Linked DNA regions of Homo sapiens: region 1 is linked to region 2. The links come from fine-mapping of genetic effects on gene expression. A gene starts in region 2. The other region holds a variant in brackets. All regions are shown on one strand. Distances are from middle to middle. Region 1 overlaps ZNF577 (zinc finger protein 577). Region 2 holds the start of ZNF577 (zinc finger protein 577).

The links. PIP is the estimated chance that this variant, and not a neighbour inherited with it, causes the effect.
Region 1: its variant is fine-mapped to the expression of ZNF577 in fetal neocortex (Walker 2019, PIP 0.95). The same link has a PIP of 0.9 or more in prefrontal cortex.

The regions. Positions count from the first base shown.
Region 1 is chr19:51,856,383-51,868,588 of GRCh38, forward strand. ZNF577 (zinc finger protein 577) reads right to left here. Exons shown (of 6, transcript NM_001370449.1): 6 at 10,666-12,206. It also overlaps the pseudogene VN1R98P and the pseudogene LOC100419706. Among named protein-coding and RNA genes, the nearest start is that of ZNF577, 25 kb to the right of the region's middle. The variant C/CT (reference allele first, on the strand shown) is at 4,731.
Region 2 is chr19:51,881,775-51,893,980 of GRCh38, forward strand. ZNF577 (zinc finger protein 577) reads right to left here and starts at 6,177. Exons shown (of 6, transcript NM_001370449.1): 1 at 5,047-6,177. It overlaps ZNF649 (zinc finger protein 649), which reads right to left. Exons shown (of 5, transcript NM_023074.4): 5 at 7,461-10,123. The coding sequence ends at 8,844. It overlaps ZNF649-AS1 (ZNF649 antisense RNA 1), which reads left to right and starts at 6,251. Exons shown (of 3, transcript NR_110733.1): 1 at 6,251-6,352. RefSeq lists an enhancer at 5,450-6,301.

The DNA.
Region 1 (12,206 bases), 25 kb before region 2:
TGTCCCCAGATTATTTCTACCCAACCTCACCTCCATGCTTCCATCAAGTATCTCAAAGAAAAAATACAGAGAACATCAGGATAATGCTAACAGACAGTTTTGTGTTTATTTGGTTGTATGCCTGCCTTCTGAGTAAAGAGTAAAGCCTCTACATCGCTAAGTCAATGTCATACAAATCCTTTAATTATCCGTATTTTGGGTGTATGTCTGTCATATTCTAGACATCCACATACCCTTGCTTTCTTAAGTGAATAACCAGATTCTCTGAAGAAGAGACACTGTTGTGAACAGGACCATCAGTAATTTTGGATTTTTTTTCACCATTTAAGACGAGAAACTTGGTGCTCGGGGACCTTGAACATCAAGATCGGGGGGCTGAGGGAGGGATAATATACTGCATGAAAGGTGGTAGTATATTGCAGCCAGAGGCTTGATTGGAAAAGAACAGCATTATGAATGAGCAGGATAGAACTGATAAAGTAAAACGAAATGAAAGTACTTCCTAGAAGCAGCATGATTTGAATGGCTTTTGCCTCAGGGGAGAATCTGTAGGAGCTGCTGAGGGTGTGAATGCGCCTCACTCTACCATGTAGACACCAGCTCCAACCATGAGTCCATGAAGACAACATCTGGGAAAGTCAAGAGAAATGTGTATTTTGTGTAATCTCAGCACTTTGGGAGGCCGAGGCAGGCGGAACATGAGGTCAAGAGATCGAGACTATCCTGGCCAACATGGTGAAACCCCATCTCTACTAAAAATACAAAAATTATCTGGGTGTGATGGCGCACGCCTGTAGTCCCAGCTGTTCAGGAGGCTGAGGCAGGAGAATCGCTTGAACCCGGGAGGCGGAGGCTGCAGTGAACCGATATCGTGCCACCGCATTTCAGCCTGGCGACAAAGCGAGACTCCATCAAAAAAGAAAAGAAAGGAAGGAAAAGAAAAGGAGAAAGGAGAGAAAGAAAGAGAGAAAGAAAGAAGGAAGGAAAGAAAGAAAGAAAGAAAGAAAGAAAGAAAGAAAGAAAGAAAGAAAGAAAGAAAGAAAGAAAAGAAAAAACAAAGAAAGGAAGGAGAAGAAATGTGTATTTTGCAGTAGATGTTTCAGGATTTTTAGAAGAGCATAGACCACAATTTCATATCTTGGTAGAATTGGGGATATGCCGAAGGGCCTCTACATGTTTAAGAACAAAGATTTTTATTGTAGGTTGAAGAACCAATACAGAAAGCAGGAGAAACCGATGTTCTTCAAAGCTCTGTCTTTGAACCTCATCCACCCACCAGCCTTCGGGTGGGTGATTGCCTGAGAACTGCTCAAGTGGCAAGTGACTGTAGCTTTCAGGCTGCTCACCAGAAATATACAGATACATATATATCTGTACACATACACACACACACACGCACACACACAAAACTCTAAGAACCTATTATCTCATGTGCTGCTTTCAAATCTAAGATTATTATTTTAAAATTTTTTGTAGAGATGGAGTCTCGTTACGTTGCCCAGGCTGGTCTCAAACTCCTGGGCTCAAGGGATCCTCCAAAGGATCCACCTGTAATCCCAAAGTGCTGGGATTACAGGTGCGGGCCATTGTGTCTGGCCTGCTTTTAGTCTTTGAGCTTTACAGGGCCCTGAAGGCCTATCTTTGAATTCCCTTACTCTCACCAGATATGCTCCCACTGCACAGGAAAGGCTCCCACCCAGCTAACTCCCCAATCAGCTGAACTAGCTGCACCCAACATGGTCCTCAATCTATATTCAGCCCATGGAATTATACAAAGCAATTGCATTCTTCCACAGAAACCATGGGCACGTTACCCTCTCATTATATAAAGCCTACTTCCCACAATCTCCGTGCTTGTTCACTCTATTCCTGAGTGCAATACCTATATGCAATGACCATTTCTCTCAGGCTGTATCTGTGACTAATAAACTGCTGTCAATTTCATCTAGCCAGTGTCAGGTGTTGTGTTCAGCCATTCCATACTACTTAGGGTAGGGAGTCCCTCCCTCATGCACCAGGGTGAATAGGAGGTTGTCAGAACATATGACACACACAAACACACACAGAAAAATGTTGCAATGGTCAAATCCAGATTAGTGTTTAGTACTCCTTAAACATCTTTATGTCTGAAGATTTTCATAATAAAATGGTGAAGAAAAGATTTCTTGACAACTGTCAAACAAAATGGGGAAGGGGCAAAAATCTAGAGAAAAAAATAAGCAAGATTTTGCTGGTACATTTTTACAGAATTCCTTGCAAAACAATAGGTTTCACTGATAACCAAAATAAGTCAGTTATTTCACATGGAGGTAAAAAAAAACCTTGCTTTTTAATAACTAGAATACCCACTAGAAGTTTTATAGAAGATTCAGTCAAGTAAGTCTCATTTTGTTAAAAAAAAGTCCATATTTGAAGTGCCAGAGTTCATGCAATATTTTTCTTTTTAAATATATTTTTCTTCATGTAAAAATTCAAATATTAACAATTTTAGAGTGTACAATTCAGTGAAGTTTAGCACATTCACAATATTATGCAACCACCATCTCTATCTAGTTCAAAAACATTTTCATCATTCTAAAAGAAAACCCCATACATACTACGCAGATAGATTGCATTCTCCCTTCCCCTCTAGTGCCCAATAACCACTAATTTGCTTTATTTCTCTATAGATTTACCTATTCAGAGTATTTGATATAAATGAAAGTATAAAATGTGGAATTTGCATTTGGCTTCTTTCACTCAGTATGTTTTTTGGGGCTCATTCATGCAACATGTCATCAGTACTTCATTCATTTGTATAACTGACCATTTATGTATTCATGTGTACATGCATGTAGCACATTTTATTTATTCATCCTTTGATAGGCATTTGAGTTTTTTCAACCAAATGCTATTTTGGCTATTGTGAACAGTGCTATAAACATTCATGGACAAATATTTGGTTGAGTACCTGTTTTCAATTCTCATGGGTATTTTACTTAGGAATGGAATTCCTGGGTCATATGGTAAGTCTGGATTTAACTTTTTGAGGAACCACCAAAGGAATGGCATATTATCATAACAAATCAAAAGTTTCGGTGTGACACAAACTTGAAATATATAGCCATAAACTCACCTCATATAACCTCACACTTTTTTCTTCCATTACTCTAATGTGTTGCTGGTTTTTAAATATTTTAGGTAAATCTTTTATAATCTTTGGATGTTTCAGAGTTATAAGGCTCTAGAAAAATGTAAACTTCTACTTGTGATGGATCATCACAGTGGGCAAAAATACTACAAATGACAGCAAAAATAAGGAATTCACACTTACGTGGTATAATCCTTTAGACTCCTTAATAATGAGTCAAATATGTATTACAAGACATTTTGATTCATAAGAAAAAAACATTTTATTTGCACTACATTGAATTATTCAACATTTTGTCTTATGTTGAGAATTTCTTTAACCCTGAAAATTGTTTCTTCGTGTAATTCCAAGTAAACAATGAAGTTTATAAATATATAAAGTACATGTCACATAGTACAGTCCACAACACAACCCCTAAGATCCTTTGTCACTATTCGACTAATCCTTATTATATTCTTATTTTTCATATATTCAAAAGGAATATTTGACAATGAAATGTCTAATATTTATAGAATATTCTCTGGAATCCTTTCTATAATAATTATGCAAAACCATTATAAAATTATATATACAGGCAAGGGTAATTACTCAAATCTAAAGTGCCATCACACATTTAAAAAGCCCTGACAATTACTATGACATTCCAGATCATAAGATGCTTCACAATTTAAGACATGGTAGGATGTGAAGAAGTGAATCCATGAAATAAAAAATAACTTATCACTGATGCTTTTACCACTTTCACTGCATTCATAAAATCTCTGTATGGAGCAAATTCTGCTCCTATATTTAAAAGCTTGTGATGTTTAATGCTATCTAATCCTCCACAGAAATTATTTCCTGTGACCAGAACCATTGCTTTTAGGTAAATGTATGACTCTGCTGAAGCAGAATAGATATGGCTCCATTAGGATTTTATACCTGCATTGAACCTAAATATTATTGCCTTCGAGAATAGGATCTTTCTGATAACTGAGTTAGGGGGCAATTCAGCTCTGAATTTTAAATAAAGAATTTTAGACAATCACTGCAATTCTTTCCTGCTATGCAATGGGTTTTGTGGCCAATGGCCAAGTTTAACTCTATCGTTTTCCCTTCTGATTTAAGTATCTGATGTATATGTCACTTTCAAAAGCTTTCCACATTCCGTTTCAGAAGGACCTATCTACCACATGAGTTTGCTGATATAATTAGTGACCTTTGGTATCTACATGAAGGCTTTACCACATTTACTATATTAATAGGGGTTTCCTCTTGTATGAGTTTGCTATAACAAGAAAGATAAACATTAACTGGGAAGACTTTATCACAATCACATTCACTGTATCTATGAGATTTCTCTCGTAAACAAGATATTCAAAGAGTTTTGACTTTCAGATTTTAATTTTTACCTGCAATGAGGTGTGATTCTTCTTAGCTTTCCTGCATTCCCTCCATCTGTAGGGTCCTTCTCCTGAATGAATACCCTAATGTGTAACAAATATAATTTGAGAATGATTTATCATTTTCATTACATCCACTGGTGCTGCCTACTAAATGGAAAGCTTCTAGTTTTCTAATAAACTTTTTTGACAATCACTGCACTCATAATTGACTCTCT[C/CT]TTTTTTTTTTTTTTTTTTTTTTTGAGACAGAGTCTCACTCTGTCACCCAGGCTGGAGTACACTGGTGCAATCTCGGCTTACTGCAACCTCCACCTCCTAGGTTCAAGAGATTCTCCTGCCTCAGCCTCCTGAGTAGTTAGGATTACAGGTGTGCACACCACACCTGGCTATTTGTTTTTTTTTTTTTTTGTATTTTTAGTAGAGACAGGGTTTCATCATGTTGGCCAGGCTGGTCTCGAACTCCCAACCTCAAGTGATCTGCCTGCTTCAGCCTCCCAAAGTGCTGAGATAACAGGCATGGGCCAATGCGCCTGGCCAATGATTCTTCTTGTGAGATCTCTACGGTAAACGAGGGATATCTTCAAAAAAGAAGGCTTAAAATATTCATTGCATCTATAAGGTTTCTCTCCCACAAGAGTTCCAAAAGGGCCCATTACAATCATAGTATTCATGGAACTTCTATTGTGTCTGAGCTGATGTGACTAATCAAAAAAGCTCTCTCATATTCCAAGTCACTGCATGGACTTTCTTCCTTCCTGCTGGGGTTTCTGATGATTAGTAATAGCTGATTTCTGAGTAAAGCTTTTTGACATTCACTGCATCTATAGGGCCTCTTTCCTGTGTGAGTTCTCTGGTGACCAATGAGAGTTTACAAAGTAGCGAATGCTTTCTTACAATCACTGCATTTATATGGTTTCTCTCCTGTATGAATTCTCTAATGTACAGTGAGACAGGATTTAACTATGATGGCTTTATTACACATGCTACATTTGAGGAGTTTCTCACCTGTATAGGTTCTCTGTTATATAATGAGAGTTGACTTACAGGACAAAACCTTCCCACATCCACTGTATCCATAAGATTTCATTCTTGCATGGCAAGTTTTTCGATGCTTACTGAGACCTGTCTTTTGGGTGAAAGCTTGTTGACCTTCATTGCATCATAGGGTCTCTCTCCTGTGTGAATTGGCTGATGAGTCATGAGATATACCTTACTGGAGAAGGCCCTATCACAGTCTGAGCATTCATATGATTTATTTCCTATATGAGTTCTCTGATATACAATGAGATTTCCCTTTGATGTGAAGGCTTTATCACATACATTGCATTTGAAGGGTTTCTCACCTGTATGGGTTCTCTGATGTATAACAAAGTTTTTTTTGGAGGATAAAACCTTCCCACATTCACTGCATTCATGGGATTTCCTTACTGCATGATGAGTTTTCTTATGATTGTTGAGATCCAACTTCCAGATGAAAGCTTCTTGACATTCACTGCATCCATAGGGTCTTTCTTCTGTATGAATTCACTGATGCTTCATAAGCTGAGCCTTTTTCAAGAAGGCTTTCTCATAATCCAAGCAAGCATATGGTTTCTCTCCTGTGTGAGTTCTCTGATGTATAGTTAGCTGTGTTCTAACCATGAAGGCTTTATGATAGACTTTGCACCTGAAAGGTCTCTCTCCTGAATGAGTTCTGAGATGCAAAATGAGGTTCGACTTCCAAGGAAAAGCTTTCCCACATTTACTGCATCCATAGAATTTTCCTTTTCTATGAAGAACTTTCTGAGGATAACTGAGCTCAGATCTGGTCTTCAAAGCTGTTTGACATTGAATGCATTAATAGGGTATCTCTCCTGTGTGAATTCACTGATGAATCATGAATAAAGCCTTTTTTGAGAAGGCTTTTTCACAATCTGAGCAAGCATATGGTTTCTCTCCTGTGTGAGCTCTCTGATGTACAGTGAGATGTGTCCTAACCACAAAGCCTTTATCACATACTTTGCAAATGAACGGTCTCTCTCCTGAATGATTTCTTTGACATAAAATGAGTTCTGACTTCCAAGGGAAAACTTCTCCACATTTGCTGCATGTACAGACTTTCCCTTCTCTATGATGAGTTTTCTGATGATACACAAGCCCTGAATTTGTAATGAAGGCTTTTTGACATTGATTGCATCAGTAGGGTCTCACTCCTGTTTGAGTTTGCTGATGAGCAATGAGCTTTAACTCACTGGGAAGGGCTCTCCTAAAATCATGAGATTCCTGGGATTTGTTTCCTGCATGAGTTCTCTGAGGCATGGTCATGAGTAGTTTACAAGTATTCACTGCACATTCACTGCATCCATATGATTTCTTTCCAAAAAGAATTGGTTATAATTAGCAAGCTCTGACTTCTGGATGTTATGAAAGCTAGTGTACGCACAACAGAGTAAGTGAGATAACAAGAAGAGGTCCAGAAAAAGGCTTCTTTTCCCATTTACCATAAAAAGATATTAGTAAGATGGTTAAATTTGAGTAAGCTCTGTATTTTAAATAATAATACTATATCAATGTCAATATTCTGATTTTGATCACAGTATTCTGATTATGCAAAAGAATGCTCTTCTTCCTATGAAATACACACTTGGGTTTTAGGGTAGAGTTCAGAAAAACCATATGTACCTGTGTGTGGTGTGTGTGTATAGATAAAATAAAGCAAATTGGTAAAATCATATTTTGGGGAAATTTGCAAAAAGAATGTGCAAGAATTTTGTGTATCATTTTGGAACATCTCATTAAATCTAGACCATTTGGAGACAAGCATTTTCAAAAGGAGAAAATAAAAATAAAGATATTGATGAAAACATACATAGGGACACTAAGTATAATGGCCTGAATGTAAAAGAGATAAACAGTGTAATATTCACCCAATGCCATTCTGCACAGGACTCAGATTCTTGATCTAGGTGCTGGTTGCACAGTGTGCTGACTAGAAAGTTACCTAGCTGTATAATTACATTATATGTATGTTATACCAAAACATTTTTCATTAATAAGTAAACAAAAACGTTTAGGCCGAAATCAGGGAATGCTCCCTTGTAGGAGGATCCTGAAAAGAATTTGGATCTTGTGCTAACAGTAACAGGATGCCATTACCAATGATAGTGGGAGCAGGATGACATGTCCTGATTTCCAATTTAAAAGCAACATCCTGTGTGTATGTTTATCAGTAATTAACACTGACCATGTCTTAAATATTATGGCATGAATATTTTTAGGCTTGCACCCTGTGAATGAGTACAGATTTGCTACATCATATAGCATTTTTTAGACCATAATTTAGATCTTTCCATCCTCCAACTAAGATTTACCTTTTTATATGAAGCTTTAATTACTTTCCGCAACACTTTTGTCAAAATCTGAAGTCTTTTAAGAACCAAGATGTTTCTGATGTTTATTTTAATGTTCAGGGATTTTGGAGGTGAGGGGCTAGAAACACTGACTCCTGCCCCTGACTCCCGCCCCTGACTCCCGCATTTATTTTCATAAATGAAAATAGTAAAATAAATTCATTAAGGGTATTATGTGGAGAATAGAAACAAGAGTAAAGGACTGAGAGTATATTAGAGAAAACTATCATAATTTTGGCAAGAGATAATGGACATCGAAGCTTGAGTGAAAATAACTGTTAGAGAAAGGAGTAGAGGACCTCGAGATATAAGGAGAAAGTAAAGTCTAAACTTGCTAAATGGACTGGATTTGTGGGATGAGTGAAACGGTGAAGCAAGGATGACTTGAAGTTTGAGTTAGCTATTAGATCTCCAAGCAATTCCCAGGCAAATGTAGGAGGATAAGGAAATATCTAGCCTGTAGAGAGAAATCTGTGAGTCATCAACATATAAATAGCATTGTTAAGTCCATGAAATCGAAGAGGTCACACTGGGAACAAAGAAAAGAAATTACCAATGATGAAGCACCCTTACGCCCTCCAACTCTGAAGGCTTTGGGAGAAGGAGATGCCCAGAGAATGGAAAAAGTCCATCCATCACGCTCAAACAATAAGTACCCAGAAAAGAGGCCAACTTAAGTCTTAGGAACCAACATCTGTGGGAAGCAAGATAAAATGAAGTCTTCTCAGCTCTTCACATAAATGTAAGTGCTGTCACTCTGTTTCAGATTCATTCTTCTTTAATTCTGCATGCAACAGTCAATGAACTTTCCCAAAGATTTTTTTTTTCTTGAGACGGAGTTTCGCTCTTGTCACCCAGGCTGGAGTGCAATGGCGCAATCTCAGCTCACTGCAACCTTCGCCTCTAGGGTTCAAGTGATTCTCCAACCGCACCTCTGGAGTAGCTGGGATTACAGGGCACTCGCCACCATGCCCAGCTAATTTTTGTATTTTTAGTAGAGACAGGGTTTCGCCATGTTGGCCAGGCTGGTCTTGAACTTCTGACCTCAGGTGATCCACCCACCTCGGCCTCCCAAAGTGCTGGGATTACACACGTGAGCCACCATGCCCGCGCCTTCCCAAAGATTTCTAACACCATATATACAGGAACACCACTGTGGTGAGCACTCCCACCTTCTAGGTTGCTTTGATACATTCTCATATGATTCACTCAGGTCTGTAGGAAATACAAAAATCAGGCCAAATATCCTTACCCCAGGATAAAAGGCAGTGCTGTGATGATGTGTCGATTGTGAGAATCTAAGTCAATATAAAGAGAGAAAAAGGCACATTTTCTTTGAAACGCCAAACAAAAGAGAGCCTCATCAATGATCTAGGTATCTGTAGTCACCTTCCAAGTCTTTGCCCTGTTAAACACATTTGGAAGGGGTCCAACCCTCATGGTCAGCTCCTTTACTTTCCAGGTCTCCCATCTTGTTGGTTCTCACTCACCTGAAATGCACTGACCTCACATTTTATCCTCTATTCTCCATGTTTGAAATTAAATATCACTGGCTGGGTGCGGTGGCTCACACTTGTAATCCCAGCACTTTGGGAGGCTGAGGCGGGCAGATCATGAGGTCAGGAGATTGGGACCATCCTGACCAACATGGTAAAACCCCAGCTCTACTAAAAATACAAAACTTAGCTGGGTGTGGTGGCACACGCATGTAATCCCAGCTACTCAGAAGGCTGAGGCAGGAGAATTGCTTGAACTCGGGAGGCAGAGATTGCAGTGAGCTGAGATGGCGCCACTGCACTCCAGCCTGGCGACAGAGCAAGACTCCATCTAAAAAAAAAAAAAAATTAAAGATATCTGGTTTGGTAGCTTAAGAGCCTGTTTATGGGAAATGACAAAGACTTGAACACTTATAATTGGGCTTGATGGGAGGTGTCTATGAACAGCACAGAAATGTTTCTGGAACTGACACACTTTCAGCTCGGCAGATTCAACATCTACTATGACAGAGGCTGCAGTGAGCCAAGATTGCACCACTGCACTCCAACCTGGGTGACAGAGCAAGACCTGTCTCAAATAAAAATTAAAAATAAAAAAAAGTAAAATAAATACATAAGGAACCACCCCCAGCTGACAGCCAGCAAAGAAACAAATCTCAGAATTAGTCTGCCAATACCCTGGATAAGCTTGGAAGTGGATTCTTCCCAGATTCTTCCAATAAGAGCCCTGTTGGCCCACACCTTGACTTCAGTCTTTGAAACCCAGATCAAAGAAACCAGTCAAGCCAATCCAGACTTCTGACCTAAAGAACTGTGAGACAATAAATTTGTGTTGTTTCAAGCTGCTAAACGTTTGTGAGAATCTGTTTTGGCATCAACAGAAAATTAATACATTATTGACACCAGAAACATCAGAAACAGGCCAGTTGTGGTGGCTCATGCCTATAATTCCAGCACTTTGGGAGGCTGAGATGGGCAAATCACCTGAGGTCAGGAGTTTGAGACCAACCTGGCCAAAATGGTGAAATCCCATCTCTACTAAAAATACAAAAATTAGCCAGGCGTGGTGACACACACCTTAATCCCAGCTACTCAGGAGGCTGGGGCAAGAGAATCACTGGAACCCAAGAGGCAGAGGTTGCAGTGAGCCATGATCGTGCCACTGAACCTGTGTGACAGAGTGAGATAAGAAGAAAGAAAGAGAGAGAGAGAGAAAAGGAAGAAGGAAAGAAAGAAGAAAGAAAAGAAAGAATCAGAAACAACTTAAGTACATCATACATTCTTACATATTTATTCACCTGTATTCACACTTAAGGCACTCTGTATGAAGCTACATTTCCTCATTCCACCTTTACCTGAATCTTGATTTTATGGTTTCTGTTTAGTTTTCCTTAAATTTTTAAATTACAAATGTATGTATTTCCATTTAATAGTTATTTGTCTTAAGCCTTGCAAAGTCATTGGAAAGAAAGGCAAAAGAAAGAAGCAAAACCTCACCGGGGCTTTTATCGTTTTTTTCTTCGGTTCTTAGGAAAAGGATATCATTTCTAAGGTATGATCTAGATATTGTCTTTTCTGATTCTGAACATCGGACAAAAGATCTCTTTTCAAGAGAAAAGAAGACATGTCAGAGAGAGGCCCAGCTTTTAGAATTGTGACAATTACTCAATTTCCCTCCCTTAATGAAGGACAACTTTTTAAAAACACAAAGCTGGCCAGGCGCGGTGGCTCACACCTGTAATCCCAGCACTTTGGGAGGCTGAGGTGGGCGGATCACAAGGTCAGGAGTTCGAGACCAGACTGGCCAACATGATGAAACCCCGTCTCTACTAAAAATACAAAAAAAAAAAAAAAAATTAGCCGGGTGTGGTGGCAGGCACCTGTAATCCCAGCTACTCAGGAAGCTGAGGCAGGACAATCACTTGAAACCGGAAGGTGGAGGTTGCAGTGACCCACGATTACGCCACTGCACTCCAGCCTGGGCAAAAGAGCGAAACTCCATCTCAAATAAACAAAAAACAAAAACAAGCAAACAAACAAAAAGAACAAAGCTAGGGTTGGAAAAAGCCCTCAGAGGTCAGACTAATCAGCACCAATGAGGAATTTCTAGTCCTCTACCCCCACCCCTAAATACAGATACAGAAAAAGGCAATGAGAACCTGGAATGTCTTCTCCCTTGCATGGGATCAGAGCCAGGCAAGTTCTGGTGGGAGAGCTGACACTGGATTTCTACTCTGAGGTCTGGCAGGTTCTAGTATTTACAGACCCAAGTTCTAAACTGGGAATCAAGACAAAGTGGATGGAATCTGTAAATCTGTGCACCAGCAGTTGTAGGTTTTTAAGTGTGTCAAATTTCTTTATACATAAATCATCTTCCCACTTGTAATAGAAGTTCTTTTTAAAAGTTGCTGACTTAGTCCTCAAAGCACTGCATTGTAGACACTGTTCTAGAAGCTTTCTGTTAACAGTGATGCAGTTGTTAATAGGCCAGTTCCGGACACTCCATAGGACACAGACACCTACACACCTAAAAAAGTTTCATCTGGGGTGTAAAAGGAGAAAGTCAGCAGAGTAAGGTTAGGTAAGACCCATGCCCTGAGTCCCCTCCCCAGCCTCCAACATGGGATCCATCTGGCCCATGAGAGCAGGAAGAACAAGGGCAAACATGTCCCACACAACAATGGGATTCTGTAGGACTGCTTCCCACCTCAGCCACACAGCAGGGCAGACTCACCAAGAACCGACTGGGTCTGACCCACCAAAGACTGCCCCAGCCAAAGCAGAACTGCCAGATGAGCTCAGAATTAAT
Region 2 (12,206 bases):
CCTTCCACACAGACAGGAAAGCAAAGGCGGTCCCATCTTTGCCCCAGAAGCAGCAGTTCAGAGATCAGTCTCCCCAAGAACCACTCTAGAAACTCACACTCTGAGAACACCCACACTGTGAGAACAACTTGAATTTTGCTGTCATCCCAGCAAGTCATTCTCAAGACTCTCTAGCAAGCCTGTATCCTTTACACCCAGAGAGCTGATCTCCAAGCCATTTTCTGACCCACTGGTAAACGCACTGGTCAAGATGCAAACCTCCTCTACCTTCAATCCTGAGACCGCTTCATCCCAGCCCCAGCCCTTCAGTCTAGCCTCCCTACAGGACCAGTCCAAAAACAGTGGTACCCAACCCAAATGCAGAAATCCATATGGATAGCTAAGAGGTAGAAAAGGCCATTACGCATGAATGGGTTGGAGCTGAGATCTCCAGGGTTGAAAAATCCAGGATCCAACCATTCCCAGAAGCTCATGGCAGGCTTTCCCTCATACATAATACATCAGAATTGCACCAAATACTCACGCGGAGAACATGGCAATGTAACCGAGAAGGGCAATGATACCACCCTGACTGGTAAGGATAATCTGGATTTCCTACTGAACTGAGGTTCAGGTCAAATGTCCAGAGGACACTACCTAAATTAAAGAGGAATTTTCTTAAGAAAGGGGGCTTGGTTGTCAGATTGGCAGCCAACAGTATCCAATAAAAAAAAAAAAAAAACTAGGGTCTGCTGTGTTGGCTCAGGCCTGTAATTGCAGCAATTCTGGAGGTGAAGGCAGGAGAATTCCTTGAGGCCAGGAGTTCAAAACCAGCCTGGGCAACATACCAAGACCTTGTCTCTACAAAAAAAAATTAAAAATTTGCCAGGCATGGTGGTGCATGCATGTAGTCCCAGGTACTTAGGACGGTGAGGCAGGAGGATCGCTTGAGCCCAGGAGTTCCAGGCTGAATTGAGTTTATGACCGCATCACTGCACCCCAACCTGGGCAACACAGCAAGATCCTGTCTCAAAAAAAACAAAAGGCAAAAAAAAGGCTTCCACTTCAAATAAAAGTTAGGATGCTTCCAAACCATTACAAGCCCTCAGCCTTATCTGCTTTTGGGAGGAATGAAGCAGGGAGGAAGGAAACAGGTGATTTCTCCCATATGATGTCCTACCTTTGGATATGGCTGACTGCTGTATCAGGGTATCATTTTGTGTGGGCTTTTTAAAAAAAATTTTTTTTTTTTTTTTTTTGAGAAGGAGTCTCAATCTGTCGCCAGGCTAGAGTGCAGTAGCGCGATCTCAGCTCACTGCAACCTCCACCTCCCGGGTTCAAGCAATTCTCTGCCTCAGCCTCCTGAGTAGTTGGGATTACAGGTGCCCACCACCACGCCCGGCTAATTTTTGTATTTGTAGTAAAGACGAGGCTTCACCATCTTTGCCAGGCTGGTCTTGAACTCCTGACCTTGTGATCCACCTGCCTCAGCCTCCCAAAGTGCTGGGATTACAGGTGTGAGCTACTGTGCCTGGCCAAATTTTTTTTTTTTATAGAGACAAGGTCTCGCTATGTTGGCCAGGTTGGTCTTGAACTCTTGGCCTCAAGCAATCCTCCCACCTCAGCCTCCCAAAGTGCTAGGATTACAGGCATGAGCGACTGCTCCCAGCCTCATGGTATAGTTTAACTTGTTGTTCTCTACCTACCCAACTCCCAGTTTTTCCTTTTAATTAAGTGAGTAGTTCAACTTAGAGGTTTGATTAGTCCCATGTTCAATTTTTTTAGGTAAGAATCCTTCATGGATGGTGCTGTGTACTTCCTACTGCAACATATGAAGAGGCATGAGGGCAAAAAAAACAAAGAAAAAAAAAGGGGGAGCTGTTATAGAATTAAAGAGATCTAAGAGATACAACAAGCAAATCGAATGCACCCACATCATTTGGATCATGATTCAAACAATCCAATGTTAAAAGACAATGATGAGATGATCAGAAAAAAACTGAATGTGGACTAACTATTCAATGAACTAAAGAAATAGGCTGGGCACAGTGGCTCACACCTGTAACCCCAGTACTTTGGGAGGCCGACATGGGCAGATCACTTGAGGTCAAGAGTTCAAGACCAGCCTGGCCAACAGGAAGAAACCCCATCTCTACAAAAAAATACAAAAATTAGCCTGGTGTGGTGGCAGATGCCTGTAAGCCCAGCTACTCGGGAGGCTGAGGCAGGAGAACTGCTTCAACCTGGGAAGTGGGAATTGCAGTGAGCCAAGATAACGCCACTGCAGTCCGGCCTCGGTGACAGAGTGAGAGTCCACTCACCCAAAAAGATAAGGAAAGAAATTATTATTAACTTGGATACACTGAAAATGGTCTAGGATGGGTGAAGTGGCTCACACCCGTAATCCTAGCACTTTGGGAAGCCGAGGCAGAAGGACTGCTTGAGCCCAGGAGTTCAAGACCAGCCTGGGCAACATAGCAAGATCCTGTCTGTAAAAGAAAAAACAAAAAGGAAATGGTCTAGTGGTTATAAATTTTTTTAATGACCTTACTGGTTAGAGATTCATACTGGGATACGTACAAGTTTCAAGGCATGAAGCCTTGGATTTGCTATGAAAGTCTCCAGACTAAAACAAAAGTGGAGGCACAGATAAATATGACTGATATGACAGATGAATATGAATTGATAACCATTGAAGCTAAGTTATGGGTAAATATTATACTCAATTTCCATGAAAAAAAGTTAGAGTCATCAGAGCCTGATGAGTTCTATCTAATCTTTACAGTACAGAGATGACTCCAATATTATGTAACATTCATCAATCACAGAAAAAGTGAAGCCTCTCTAACAATTATATAAAACCAGCATTTCCAAACACAAATCAATAGAATAAAAAAAAAAAGAATTATAGAGATAGGTGCTTTTCCATTGATTTTCATCCTTCCTTCTTTTCTAATACTTGCATTCAAGGTTATAAATTTCCTCCACTGACTGCTTAGGTTAAATTCAACAAGGGTTTACATGTAGAATTCTTATTAAAATGCAATTGAAAATATTTCCACTGTGATTTTTTGAACTCAGATTATTTAGAAGCGTATGGCATAATTAACAATCATTCTGACAAGAAAACAGCATGTTCTGAATTGATAGTTCCAAAAAGTCACATGACTATTCTATGGTGAATAAATCATTTTGATATTGATTTATAGCTTAATTCCACTATAGTTAGAGAAAATATTCTATATGGTTTTAATCATTTGAAATGTATTTAGACTTGCCTGATGGCCAACCATACGGTGACTTTTTATAAATGTCCTATGTGCATCTGAGGAAAATTATTGAGTGCAGTGTTTTATATTGGTCAAGTTTGTTAATTAGGTATGTCATTCTAACCTTTCAGGGGTTGGGACTATTGTGGGTTAGCTGAATGTTTTTGTAAATAATGTTTTATCAGAACACAGCCACACCCATTTGTTTACACATTCTGTACAGCTACTTTCATTCTATAATTGCAGAACCTAGTAGATGCAGACAAGACCATTTAGCCGGCAGAGACTAAAATATTTGTCATCTGTCTGCACCTTTACAGAAAGTTTGCCAGCAATGGTTAATCTATACCCTTTTAGCTTTTTGTCTGCCTGTTCTCTCAGTTACTGAGAGAAGTATGTTAAGAATTTCCCATTATGATTGGGCATTTGCGGTTTCTCCTTGTGTCTAGCATACTCCATTCCTCTATACTTAACACACTAAGTATATGCTCTATTGACTTTTTTTTGAGATGGAGTTTCATTCTTGTTGCCTAGGCTGGAGTGCAATGGCATGATCCCAGCTCACTGCAACTTCTGTCTCCTGGGTTCAAGTGATTCTCCTGTCTCATCCTCCTGAGTAGCTGGGATTACAGACACCCGCTACCACGCCCTGCTAATTTTTGTATTTAGTAGGGATGGGGTTTCATCATGTTGGCCAGATGTCTCGAACTCCTGATCTCAGGTGATCTATCCGCCTCAGCCTCCCAAAGTGCTGGGATTACAGGCGTGAGCTCTCATGCCCAGCCCTCAATAGAACTTTTATGCACCAAAAGACATGTAGAAAAACGTTCATATCAACAATACTCATAACTCCCATAAGCCATAACAATGTCTCTTGATAGTGGAATGGATAATATGGGGTATAATCATCAATGGAATACTACACAGTAATGAAAAAGAAACGAGCTACTGCTATATGCAGCAACTTAGATGATTTTCACAACAAAAATATTAAGCAAAAGAAGCCAGCCACAAAAGAATGTGTACCTTAGGATTTCATTTATATAAAGATGACAACCAAGCACATCTATGATGTTTTTAAGATAATAATTACCTTTGGAGAGGAGAGAGAAGATGAGGGCTTCTGGGATGCTACATTATTCTATTTTTTTAACCTGGTGATTTTCAAGTATAATCACTTGAAAAAAACTTAAGAGACCAATTTCTCTTATAAATGTATAGGCAAAAAAATTTTTTAACTTTCTACTATGAAAAATTTCAAGCAAAAGAACAGTATACTCAAATTCCACATATTCATCATGTGACTTCAAGAATGACGAACTCACATCTAATTTTGTTTTATCTATACCACCATTCAGTCCCTCTCCAGCAATGGATTATGGATTATTCCGAAGCTAATCCAAGATATCTTTTCATTTTTTGATGCAAAAATATTAAATAAAATTTTAGCAAATAAAATCCAGTCTCATATTAAAAGAACAAACCATTATTGACAAGTATGGTTTATTCCCTCAGGAATACATGAAATTGGGAAATAGAGCAACACAAATCAAAGAAAATTTTAAAGAGAAAAAAATAAATGAAAATAATTGTAATGGTCAAAAGCCCTTAGGAAAGAGAAATAAAAACTTGATAAATCACAGTAATTATTTATTCAGACCATACTACGTACCTAGTACTACACTTTGAACATACTTAAAGAACATTTGCTCACTTAATCTTCATAATGATTCCATGAAAAAGAAACTATGACAGCTTTTTTCCACAAATAAGGAAACTGACTCAGAGATTAACGTACCCAAGTCAGAGGCAGAGGCAGGTACTTCTTACTCCACAGTCCATACACTTGCCACCTGGCTAAAATTATTTGCAGATGACAAAAATGCTCAACTAGAAAAAAGACGTCAATTTATAAGTTATATGTAATGACATGAGTACAATGAAGTGACAGAATAAACATATATATTTTTAACTTCTGTTCTTGTCAACTAAGTAAAATTAGGAACAAAAAAGGAAAGGGGGAGGGGTCTTATGCAAAAAAAAAGTCACGATTTACAACAAAAAGTATTAACTATGTAGAAATAAGCATAACCAGAAATGTCCAAGATACGTATGGAAAAACACTACAGATAGTCAAACAAATAAAAATATTGGGTTAATAGAAATCCATCACATGTTCCTGAAAGTGTTGTATCTAGATCTACATCAATTCTACCCAAATTAAAGCAACCACTTGATGAAACTGCAGCAATTTAAAAAACTCTCAAAGAGCATGTAATATGGGAATACGAAGTTGACAAGATGTTATTAAAGACGAATAAAATTATACCAATACCTAGACACCTGATCCCAACATTAAACATGAAATACACTAAACCAGAGTTATTTTCTGGAGGAGTATTTAAAATGATGGGGATGTTATTACTTGGGTCGCAATGAACCTGAAAACCCATTTTCTACAGAATATACAGCAGCAGGGAAGCAAGGGGACCAGCAGACCCCTTTTTAAGTACGCATGTGATAAGCAATGAACACGAACTGCCCAGAGCAGTCTCCAACACTGACACGATTCGCTTCCCCACCACGACGCCCTAGCGCTACTGTGCAACGAAGACCTCCCAAGCACTGGTTCCAATGCGGAGACCATGGGCTCCCAGACTCTGGGAACTCCAACACGACTGCGAAACGAACTCCGAGCGAGGACTCCCCGAGAGCTCCCCGCAACACGGACCTCACGCGCTAGCGAACAACAGAAAAAAAAAAGCGCGCTCTCCCTGCCCCTGAAACATTCCCAGAAGCCCACGCAGACCAGACCGATGACCTGTCTCCACTGCTGGAGGCGAGTCAGGGACCCGAAGTCTCTAAACACTCGCCTCTACCCGCCGCCCCGCGAACCCCACACACTGCAGACGCGACACTCGCAAGTTTCGGGGATGGCGGCCGGCGAGGGCCATACTGCGTCTTTCCGGAGACACGGAATACGGCACCAGCCGTCCCTTTATGATGCAATATGTCTGCGCCCAGGGGACGCTTGCTGGGAGCAGCCATTTTCAACCCTACTGCCGTAGAGCAGGCGGAGTCCCTCTTTTCGCGCCTTAAGACAGGTAGGTTCTGACGATGAAAAGCAATTGAAAACGACCCATTTCACCCTTTTTCCAGTCCACGTGAACTGCTAGATCTTGGCTTTGCAACATTAGCCAGGGGCGCTACATAAACTGCTTAGTTTCTCAAAGGCTCAAGCCTGCCCTGATCTGTCTACAGGATGGGTAGAGATGGTCACAGACATTTAGGCACTTTGATCCTAAGAAGAATGGAAAGAAACCATGTGGCGCGGCAGTCTTACAGGAATTTCAAGAGGGAGGGACCTGAGCAACAATCGGAGGGGTTATTACTCCTGAGGATGCATCTGGCTGGAGAAAGCAGCCTTTGAGAACTGCCTAAGAAGTATCTTTACATCTACATCAGATGTAGCCTCAGAGGAAGGAGTCAGTCATAGAATGGATAAAACAACCGCGTGTTAAAGCTTTGGTTATAATTGGTGTGGAGAATGGAGAACACAGTTGATCAGCAGTTGACAAAGTGGGGAACCAACACGAAAACAGGGCTCTCTCACCCTGGAAAAGCCAAAGGCAGAACAAGCCTTTACATCCAGGAAGGTGGGAGCAACTTGAAATCAAAACTCTGAAGGGGAGATGATTCTGTTCAATACTGAAACTCAGCTGATCAATTAACTGATGAATTCTAGCACCAAACCTGCTCCCTATAATTTTATAACCAGCCTCAGAGAACCTTTAAAGGGATTGATCATTCACTCATTTATCCAGCGAATGTTTATAAAATGCCTAATGTGTCAAACACTGTTGTGCGTGCTGGGAATACAACAGTTGGAAATTCAGGCACAAAGACTCTCATTCATGGAGATTACATTCTACTGGCAATTTCAGTGTGTGAGCTAAATTGAGTGGTGCTAACTGTTGACTTGGCTGGTTGACTGAAACTTGGACTCAAAATTTGCCTACACTAAATGAAGTTTAAATGCCAGAAATTTCCTCATATATTATAAAGTACCCAAAGATAAATGGAGTTTGGAATGCTAGAATGAATTTATCATGTAAAATCAAGATTACCCATACCTCAAATATGTATTCCAGTAGCATCTAGAAGACAATCTCTTCACTGACACTGATCTGGTCACAGGAAATAGAGATATACTACTGTAAGATTATTTTATTATACAGTAAGTGATATAATGTCCTTGAAGTTAGAATGATAAGTTCATGATTTTCTTTCAGTCAGTTCAGGCTACTAGAAAAAATACACCATAGACTGACTGACTGCCTTAACAAACATTCATTTCTCACGTTCCAGAGGCTGAGGAGTCTCTAGAACTGGACTCTAAAACACAATCAAGGTGTTGGCAGGTCTAGTGTCCAGTGAGAGTCCATTTCCTGGTTTATGCATGGTCATCTCATTCTGTCTTCACATGGCAAAGAGCAGAGAAAGAGAAAACAAACTCTCTTCTGTGTTGTCTCATAAGACACATAATCTCATCATGAGGGTTCCACTTTCAAGATGTAATTACCTTCCAAAGGTCACACTTCCTAATGCCATCCCTTAGGGATTAGGACTTCAACATGTAAATTTGGAGAGGACATAAATATGCAATCCCTCACAATGATGTATGCTATAAAATCTCAAGGAATCAAATGACAAGGATTTACAGTTAATAAGCCAACAAAGGAGACAATATGTAATATAAACACACTCAGCTACTCTAAGGGAAAGCAGAAAAAGAAGAAAAGGAGAACAAAGAAGACATAGAATAAACAACAAATAGTAAGTTAGTAATTTAAACCTAAAAACATCAATACATTGAACGTAAATGATCTAAATACCCCAGTAAAAAGACAGAGATTGTTAACTGGATAAAAAAGGAAGGCCCAACTGTATGTTGCCCACTAAACACCCACTTTAAATATGAAAGCATAAATAGGTTAAAAGTAAAACCATGATAAATAAAGATATGAAAGATATAACAGGGAAAAACCCATGTCAAATTATTAGAGGTTAAAAATTACAATTTCTGAGAGAAAACATACTTTGGATGGGATTAATGACAGATTAAACACTGTGGAAAAAAGATTAGTGAACTGAAAGACATAGCTATGAGAACTATAAAAAATGAAATAATGAAGGGTAAAATAATAAAAAGCATGAACATCATTTTCATGTACATATGTGTATACACAAAAAGATTTGTGAACTTGAACAAGGCAAGAGATACAATCTAAACTACAAAGAGAACAAAAGCTAACCCCTACCTTGGCCCCCGGAGTAAGAGATATCATTCTGAGGAACACCAAGTGGAAGCCTCTAAAACTGCCCCCCTCCCCAGCCAAACTCTATGATCAAGATAGTAAATGAAAAACAATATTGTGGGAGGGGTAGTGAGGTTTATAAGATATAAAAAAGTAAAATATATTTCATATCTTGTAAACCCTACTATACATATTAGTGCAGGGAGCCAAAGGCCCATGGGACATGACAAACTCAGCATTCCGCTGGAGGCTATATGATCAAACAGCAAACTGTTTATCATGAATGCAGGATGTGGGCAAACTCACACTGCCCTGCCACCATTGCCACAGTTACCATATTAACAGGGCTTTTCCCCTGCACATGTTCACTAGGACTTAAGCTGTGACTTGCTGTGGAAGGATTTTCCACCTTCACTGAATCCCCCCGTTTCTCCCTTGAGTGTATTCTCTTATGTTTAACAAGGCAAGACATATAGAAGTAAGCTTTCTCACACTCATCACAGCCATAGGGTCTCTCTCCCGTGTGAGTTCTGTGATGTACAATGAGCATTGTCTTTGTAAGGAAGGCTTTCCCACAGTCACTGCATTTATAGGGTTTCTCTCCTGAGTGAATTTTCTGATGTCTAATGAGTCCTGACTTCTGTGAACAGGGTTGCCCACATTCAGGACATACAAAGGGAGTCTTTCCTGTATGATATCTCTGATGTGCTACAAGGCAAGACTTCTGGCTGAAGGCCTTGCCACAGTCAATGCATCCATAAGGTTTCTCTCCAGTGTGAGTTCGTTGATGTATGTTGAGATTGCCCTTCTGAATGAAGCCTTTTCCACATTCACTGCATGTATGAGGCTTCTCTCCTGTATGAGTTCGCTGATGTACAACGAGTAGTGATTTTCTGGAGAAAGCTCTCCCACATTCGCTGCATTGATGGGGCTTAATTCCCGTGTGAATCCTTTGATGTTCAGTAAGCTCAGATTTCCTGGGGAAGGCTTTCCCACATTCACTGCACCCGTATGGTTTCTCTCCTTTGTGAGCTCTCTCGTGTTCAGTGAGCCTGTACCTCTTGTAGAAGGCTTTCCCACACAAGCTACACCCGTGGGGTTTCTCTCCTCTGTGAGCTCTCTCGTGTTCAGTGAGCCTGTACTTCTTGTAGAAGGCTTTCCCACACAAGCTACACACGTGGGGTTTCTTTCCTGTATGAATTCTCTTATGCTCAGTGAGCTGAGACTTCTTGAGGAAAGCTTTCCCACAGTCAGTGCATTCATGGGCTTTCTCTATGTTGTGTGTTTGCTGATGTTTAAGGAATTGTGACTTGGTGCTGATGGGTTTTCTACTTTCAGGGAATTCAATTTCCGTAGGCATTTGTTCATGATTATCATGGAGAAAAGCTCCATCTCCATTAAACTCAGCAGGCTCCTTTCTGTTGTATCTTCTGCTCTGGTTGGTTAAACCTAAATATGATTTCAAAGTTCTTCCGTGTTCATAGCGTTGTCCCGTCCTCTTCAGTATTTTTTGGTTTTGCAAGGGCTGCTGCAGATGATCATCAGCTTTCTCAATTTCTAAGAGAGAGAACAATAAATCCTTCCATGATCATCACACGGAATAAAACTGCTTCAAAGATGCCTTGGGGTTGGCTGGCTTTTTACTGGAACCCCTATAATACCAACATGGAAGGAATTCCAAGTATAAGTGTTCCCTATCTGTTAAAAAAACTTTTAAGAATTGTAGTTAAATACATATAAGATAAAATTTGCCAGCTGGGTGCGGTGGCTTATGCCTGTAATCCCAGCACTTTGAGAGGCCAAGGCGGGTGGATCACAAGGTCAAGAGATCAAGACCATCCTGGCCAACATGGTGAAACCCCATCTCTACTAAAAATACAAAAAAATTGGCTGGGCGTGGTGGCACGTGCCTGTAGTCCCAGCTACTCAGGAGGTTGAGGCAGGAAAATCGCTTGAACCTGGGAGACAGAGGTTGTAGCAAGCCAAGATCGCTCCACTGCACTCCAGTCTGCCAACAGAGCAAGACTCCATCTCAAAAAAAAAAAAAAAATTTGCCAGCCAGGCACAGTGGCTCATGCCTGTAATCCCAGCACTTTGGGAGGGTGAGGTGGGAAGATCACTTGAGCCCAGGAGTTTGAGACCAGCCTGGGCTACAATAGGGAGACTGTCTCTACAAAAACTTTTTTTTTAATTTAAAAAAGAATAATCCTGAGTAGGGAAACAGCAGACATAGGTAGTAGAATAAATATCCCAGAAAGGCAAGTTAGAATGTTGGATACACAGCCTTTGACTTCATCCTAATCCTATTAGACTGTTGGGTGCTAAAATATGCCCTTCTCCATTCTGTAGACCATCATCACGCTAACTTTCCTAGAGCACCAATCTCATATTTCCAGGAAAACTGCAGTCAATACTCTAACCTTTGTTAAAACAGAGATCACAAGACTGATGGAACAGACTCTTTGTAGCAATAAGATACCAAACTATAAACTAGGTCTAAGGACATACAGGTAAGGGTTAAGTCACACACCCCCTACATTTAAAGAATAAACTATGTTCTAACTGCCACGAGTGTTTTTTGTTTTGTTTTGTTTTGTTTCTTTTTCTGTAGCAGCTAAACAAACACTGGCCTTGGGACAAGCAATATTGAAACAATTGCAGCTCCCGGACCACCAGATGCTGACTAACTGATGCCCCTCACCCCCAACAGCATTCCACAGGCCATAACTGCAGCTATGATTGGACAGGAGACTGATCTCAATATCCTTCTCCTGATAAACACCAGCTGTTTTGGTCAGCTGCCGGAGTCTGTGCAGACTTTTCTTATATCCTGTAAAAGACCTGCTAGCATACAGTCAAATTCCACCTCATTTTAATGTTAAAACTCCACTCCAAAATGAAAGTGGATTATATGTTACATATATGTTTGCTCACTATGCACATGTTTGCTGATTCTCATAAAGATATTCATAAGACTCCCCATCTCTCACTGAATAGGTATGCAAAGCAAATCCTAGAAGGCAAAAAGCCTCCTGCAAGGCAAAAAAAAAAAAGTTTCCCCTCTTCAGTGATGTGTGTTTTTTCCACTTCCTCAAAGTCACACCACTCAGATCTGCGAATCATCTTTTGTTAGAATATAAAGTTTCTCTTTGCCTCCTCAATTTTTTGGTTAACACCTTGTATCTACCTGGCTATGATATATTCTCATATGTTCCAACAGAAAGAGAAACAGGGTGATCCCTATGGACTTTCAGAACATGCAAGCAGAACACGTGGTCCTCTCCACACAGCTCTGCCACTGCACCAAATATGGAAACTGTCACCTTCTTCATCATGCCCTACTTGCACAGATGTCATATTGGATTTTTTTTCCACTTTGCTGTCCCTAATATACTAATTCCTCACCTTGCCACTAACAGCCTCTACTCTCTGAATTTTGTACTTATGTCTCTGTTGGCATCGGTGAATGGAGCCCTCAAGGACCACCTCCCTACTTCTGAATCAAGACTTGAGGCAGCTTTACTTTTAGTTTTTCTTAGAACATCAGCTATACAGTATGATTGCTATAGTACTGCCACCAGGTGAAAGGTAAGCTCTACCTAGAGCTAGAAAAATACAAAACTTTACCTCCACCACTACC